Linked DNA regions of Homo sapiens: region 1 is linked to region 2. Evidence: fine-mapped expression QTL. A gene starts in region 2. The other region holds a variant in brackets. All regions are shown on one strand. Distances are between the middles of the regions.

What was found. PIP is the estimated chance that this variant, and not a neighbour inherited with it, causes the effect.
Region 1: its variant is the best candidate, but not a certain one, in a credible set for the expression of DUSP14 in tibial nerve (GTEx, PIP 0.58).

Annotation. Positions count from the first base shown.
Region 1 is chr17:37,512,065-37,514,971 of GRCh38, forward strand. DUSP14 (dual specificity phosphatase 14) reads left to right here. Exons shown (of 3, transcript NM_007026.4): 3 at 117-1,434. The coding sequence starts at 209. The coding sequence ends at 805. It overlaps SYNRG (synergin gamma), which reads right to left. Exons shown (of 22, transcript NM_007247.6): 22 at 2,743-2,907. Among named protein-coding and RNA genes, the nearest start is that of DUSP14, 24 kb to the left of the region's middle. RefSeq lists a silencer at 444-834 and an enhancer at 593-1,106. The variant T/C (reference allele first, on the strand shown) is at 1,158.
Region 2 is chr17:37,488,176-37,491,082 of GRCh38, forward strand. DUSP14 (dual specificity phosphatase 14) reads left to right here and starts at 1,716. Exons shown (of 3, transcript NM_007026.4): 1 at 1,716-1,783. RefSeq lists an enhancer at 2,816-2,907.

The sequences.
Region 1 (2,907 bases), 24 kb after region 2:
GATTGTACTGTATTATTTAAAAAAAAACCCTCTAATCTTCCCATTTGACAAATGTGACAGAAGGCTGTGATGAATCAGTAGCATTTAAAGTACTGACACATACCTGTATTTTGCAGGAAGGAGACTCTAATTTTGGATTCCTTGGTGGAGGAAAATAAAACACTCTGGTCTTGCCGCCAACGATGCAAGTGTGACTGCTGGCGTCTTCATGAGCTCCAGAGGTCACAGCACGCTACCAAGGACTCTCATGGCCCCTCGGATGATTTCCGAGGGAGACATAGGAGGCATTGCTCAAATCACCTCCTCTCTATTCCTGGGCAGAGGCAGTGTGGCCTCCAATCGGCACCTCCTCCAGGCTCGTGGCATCACCTGCATTGTTAATGCTACCATTGAGATCCCTAATTTCAACTGGCCCCAATTTGAGTATGTTAAAGTGCCTCTGGCTGACATGCCGCATGCCCCCATTGGACTGTACTTTGACACCGTGGCTGACAAGATCCACAGTGTGAGCAGGAAGCACGGGGCCACCTTGGTGCACTGTGCTGCAGGGGTGAGCCGCTCAGCCACGCTGTGTATCGCGTACCTGATGAAATTCCACAACGTGTGCCTGCTGGAGGCGTACAACTGGGTGAAAGCCCGGCGACCTGTCATCAGGCCCAACGTAGGCTTCTGGAGGCAACTGATAGACTACGAGCGCCAGCTCTTTGGGAAGTCGACAGTTAAAATGGTACAGACACCTTATGGCATAGTTCCCGACGTCTATGAGAAGGAGTCCCGACACCTGATGCCTTACTGGGGGATTTAGTGCCACTGAAGCCTGCGTCAGCAGCCCGAGCGGGGCCGGCATCTGCTCCCCGCCGTCTGCTCCCTCTCCACTCTCTTCTCAAATGGCTGACTTCTGGTTCTCCCTCAAGTGTTTTTTACACTGGGTGTTCAAATTTATTTTAAGAGATAGGGAGGGAGGGGACATAAAGGGAATGCATACATTGCTAGTCACATTTTTAAAATTAACATTTTGGAATAGTGTTTATGGAAATCTTTAGCTTTTAATCATTTTTACCAATTTGAACAGTTTAATAAACTGGTTCTGCTCTCTTCTGAATCTCATGCCTTTGGCACCTTGGTAGGTGCAGGAGGAGCTCAGTGCAAAAATCACT[T/C]TGGGGCCTCATTAACCCTTTAGAGACAAGCTTTGCCCCAGGCTGCGGACCAGACAGATGCTTAGGGAAGGTTGATAACCAGCTTCAGTCTCTACTGGATTAGCCCTACTCTTTCCTTTCCCCTCCATTATTTAGTGACTCTGTAAGTAAGTTAAATACACCCTTATTATTTAGCTGTTAAGTAACTATAATGAAATCTGCTGCAAAATCTCTCTTGGAATCCATGTGCCCAGGATTATATTAGCATTATTTTTAATAAATCTATATGCTTAACATATTAGAATTTTTACTAATAATTTCAAGGTGTGTGTGTGTCGATGATGGGAAAAAGGTGCTCTCCAGTAACTAACTAACTAACTGCTGAAATGTGGCTCCTGTGCCAGTTGGGAACATTACTTAAAATACACATCCCAGCAGAGTCTTGTCGGCGCGTCACATCCTGGTGGACAGGCAGACACACCGTCCCCGGTGCTGGGCCGGTGGGAGATGATTGATAGTGCACGCTCTGATCAGGGGTGCTGGTTTTGGTTTCCTCTTGGTTAGTGGAGCGCCCCGAAGCAGCGTGTCCTCCATCAGAGAAACTGGTTTTCAATAAAAGGTGCCTCTGCTTGACTATTATTACCACATACGAAAATGCCCTAAACCAAACCTCAGTATGAGCGATAAGCAAGTAACAAAAACAAACAATGGCTGCCTTTGTTTAACTTTGGGACTGTCTGTCACCCAGTTCACTGCTCCTGATAAAACGGGCAGCACCGCTCATCATCATCAGATACATGGTAGAAGGTGAATGAGCTCGCCCCTGTCCCACTCCTGGGACACTCCTGGGCACTTTCCACGTGCCCCCAAGTAACCACTGTCCTAGGGCATGCCTTTCTTCTGCATGGAGGGCATCCTGGGCGTCTGCCCGTGCAATGGGAACCCGCTGCGGCACTGCTCTTTGGCTTCATTTATCAGGAAGGTTGTAGCTTGCTCACCAGAGGAATAGTTTTCTAGATTTTTTGGGTCAGTTTTGGCAGGAAGCCATACATAGGCCAGTAGCTACATATTTAGACAAATATACTCCACATTTTACCTGGTTTGTGGCAATGGTTTTTTCCCATCTAAATTCTACCTTTTATTGCTTTATACCCGTGGCTGCCCACTGTTATAAACATGCATCATTATTCTCTAGAAAAACTAAAATGAAAAAAATTATTAATAGTTTCTATGGGAAATCAGAGGAAACAACAAATGCTATAAGATCAAAAAAAAAAAAAAAAAAAAAAAATCCAGGGAGGCTCTGGCTGCTTTAGTAGGAGGCTCAGCTTTGAGTCTGGGAGTTTCTGAATAAGAGCACCCAAATAACCATTGTCCTAGGGCGAGAAGACACCTGGTGACAGATGTTCTTGGTAATTAATGAAAATTACCTGTAGAATTCCTGGCAAGCAGCACTACGGGGCTGTAACTAAGAGTTCCTCGCACGTGGGAAGCTGAACACCTTTGTAATCTTAAGCGCATGGGCCCCTGTTCATCCTAGTGACTTGCATCTATGTGAAATCAACCCAACAAAGACAAGACCAAGAAAAGGCTTAGTAGCCTGACATTCTTCTACACTTGTATTTTGGTTAGAGAAGTTTAACAAGGGGTGATTTCAGAACAGACCCTGAAAATATTTTAAAGGTAAAGCTTTATAATGTCTAAACACATCAATTAGAGCAGTTGTTTATTAAAATACAAACAAGGGAGAAACCACACCATCTTTTAAAAT
Region 2 (2,907 bases):
TCTCTAAATCTCTAAATCTTGACACGCACATCGCACACAACACAAACTCTATTTTAGCCCACCTCCCTCTTCACTGACTCTTCATGGTAGGTTTAGTTCCCATAATCCATGAAAATGCCTAGCTCCTTGTCACTAGAGCTTGTTTTGGAAACCTGCCTACAGTGTAACAAGCTGGAATGTGAAGAGGGATGCATCTATTTGTGTTGCTGAGTCATTGAATTGACTGAAGCTTCAAGGACTAGGGGGTGCTGAGCAGAAATGAAAACACACAATCCTTTCTGTTAGAGATTTGCTCTTTTCGTATTGGCATGTAAACAAGTAAGTCACTAAGTGAACTGACGTCACAATTTAGTTTTAGGAAGATGCTTTTCCCAGGCACGATTTGAACTCAGTGGTTTCCTGAATCTAGCAAAGTATGCTGCTTTGTTTTCTCTTAGATTAATTTTGCCTAATTTTAAAGCTTTGATTCTCTTTTTACGAAGACGAAAATAAATCTCTCTAGTCTGGGCCTTTTTCGTTTCCCAGGATTATGATTAAAATTATCACTAACTTTTAGATAGTCCAGCACGCACCGGATGACTCTGAAGCCGGTTGGGCAGTGGAGATCGGGAAGAACATGAAAAAGCTTCAAAGCTTTTGGTTGAGGACATCGGGAGATGTAAACCCCAAACGCGGGTTTTACTTCTCCCCTCCACCCCTCCCCGCAAACCCATGCCTACTCGTTTTGACTGCTCAGCAATTCTGAGGCCAACCATTTGCAACGGCGAGGAGCAGGGGCTGGTGAGTCAAGGACTGGGCATGGAGTCAGGACTCTTAGGTGCCTTGACTCACGGCAGAGCCTTGAGGAAGTCGCTTTGCCTCCCACGTGTCTCCCTTCACCTGCCAGAGGCGGAGGGGAGGCGGGGCTGTGCTGGAAAACGTCCGTTTCGCACCGACTTATGTTACAGATGGGCAGACCTGAATTTTAAAAGACCCTCAGAGTCACACAGCAAATGAGCCCTCAAATGCCCGTGTCCCGCCTGCGCTCCGGAGAACCCCTGCCCTGCCTCGGGGACTCGGGAGGTGGGTGTGGGCTCCGAGACTCGGACGGCACCTTGGCGTGGCGAGAGCAGGTGGAGATGCGCACGGAGGTTGCATGTTCACCTCCGGGTCTCGGGCGCCACGGCTGCCCGTACCTGTTCCAGCAAGCGTCAGCCAGGAACTGCCGCGCTACTGATTTTCCCTTCGCTCTTGGGTCCCAACCCCCGGGCTCTCCGGGCTAGGGAGGCGGTGGGGTGGGGTCGAGGCCGTCCCGAGCCACCCGCGGCGGCTTCACACCTGTATCGGATTTGCTTTCTCGCCTTTAATCCTCTCCAATCCCGAAAGCACCCCAGCAGAGCGCCCCCGCAGCCCGCCTCGAGCCCGGCTCATACGCAGACGCTGACTGGGGAAGCGAGGGGTCGCCGGTGTGTGAGGCAGGGTAAGAGACCAGGGGACCTGCACGGAGGAGCGCTCTAGGGGAGGCTGCTGCCTCGGGAGCTAGGGCGCGCCCGGACCACACCGCACGGCGCAGAAGCCCAGCGCGCACGCGCGCCGCCTGCCGCCCCGCGCGTCCCCCCGCCCCGCGTCGCGTCCCCCCACCTCGGGAGAGGGCGGCCAGGCGCAGGGAGCGTGCGCGCGGCCCGCCCCGGGCGCGGGCGGAGGGAGGAGGAGGCGGCGCGCGCGGCGCCCAGCCCGCAGAAGCCGGTGGCCGCGCAGGAGGACGGAGCCCTAACCGCAACCCGCTCCGCGCCGCGCCGCGCCGGTAGGGGACCCGCAGGCCCGGGGGTGGGGGTTGTGGGGAAGGTGTTGGGGTGGGGCGGGAGGGCGGGACTTCGCGCTTCGGGTCCCTGGGCGCAGGGGGACCCAGAGGCCCGCGCGACCCCGCCTCTGGAAACTTTGTGCCGGCGCCCCCACCTGCTCCCTGGCGGTCCTTGACTCTTCGGGGCGGCCCGCGGAGGAGAGGCCCGAGACCTTCCGCAGCGCACCCTCGCCGGCCCTGAGCGTGCGCCCCCTGCCGCTCCCCCGCCGCGCCGCGCCGCCCCCGCGACCCTGTCCCTGTGCCCCGGGGCTCCAGCAGCCTCGGCCGCGCCTCCTCCGTCGCCTTCCGACCCCGCTGAGGCCGCCTACTCTCGCTGGCATCCACCCGCTCTGGAGCGCGCCGCCGCTTTTTGCATCTCCCCGAGGTTTCTGGTGCATGGATAGAAGCAACTTGACTTTCAGCGATGCCAAGTGTCCAACTTGAGTCTTTCTCTGCGGTGGTAGATGGGTGTGCGCGGTGCTAACATCTGTCTTTTTATTTCTCCTAAGTACCCTTGCTCCGGAGCGAAGTTGAGTTGTTGTTTGTAAAGAGGGGGTGCGTGCTGTGGCCGCCTTAAGTGGATTGTATAACTGTATTTTATTTAGGTGGATGTTGCCAGTGGTACCAGCCAGTGTTATGGTAACTGGGCATCCCAGAGGCTAGGGAAGGAGGAGCGACTTACAAATGCAGTTTTACCATGCAGAGATTTTTTTTTTTTAAAACCACCTTGTACTTTCTATCCAGCAGGACCTCCGGACATTTAGTGTGTGTTAACTCGTTAGCTGTTCATTATCGTTTTATAAGAGAGGGGGGTGGAGAGCGTTACCATCCCGTTTTACAGATGTAAAAACGGAGGCGAAGAGCAAACTCCGGGTATCCTTAGTAACCTTAAAAGAATAGGGACCAAGAGATTTAACCCAGAGTCTCCTGGAATTCCTAGTCCCTAAGGCCACTCAGAAGTATGATGGAATGTTGGACCGTCCTCCCTGACATTCTACAGATCACTTAAGAGTCAGAGAGGCCGAGGCCAGCCGGCAGCTCCATGCCTGAGACTCAGCTCTGCCACAAAGTTAAGTAACACTGGACAA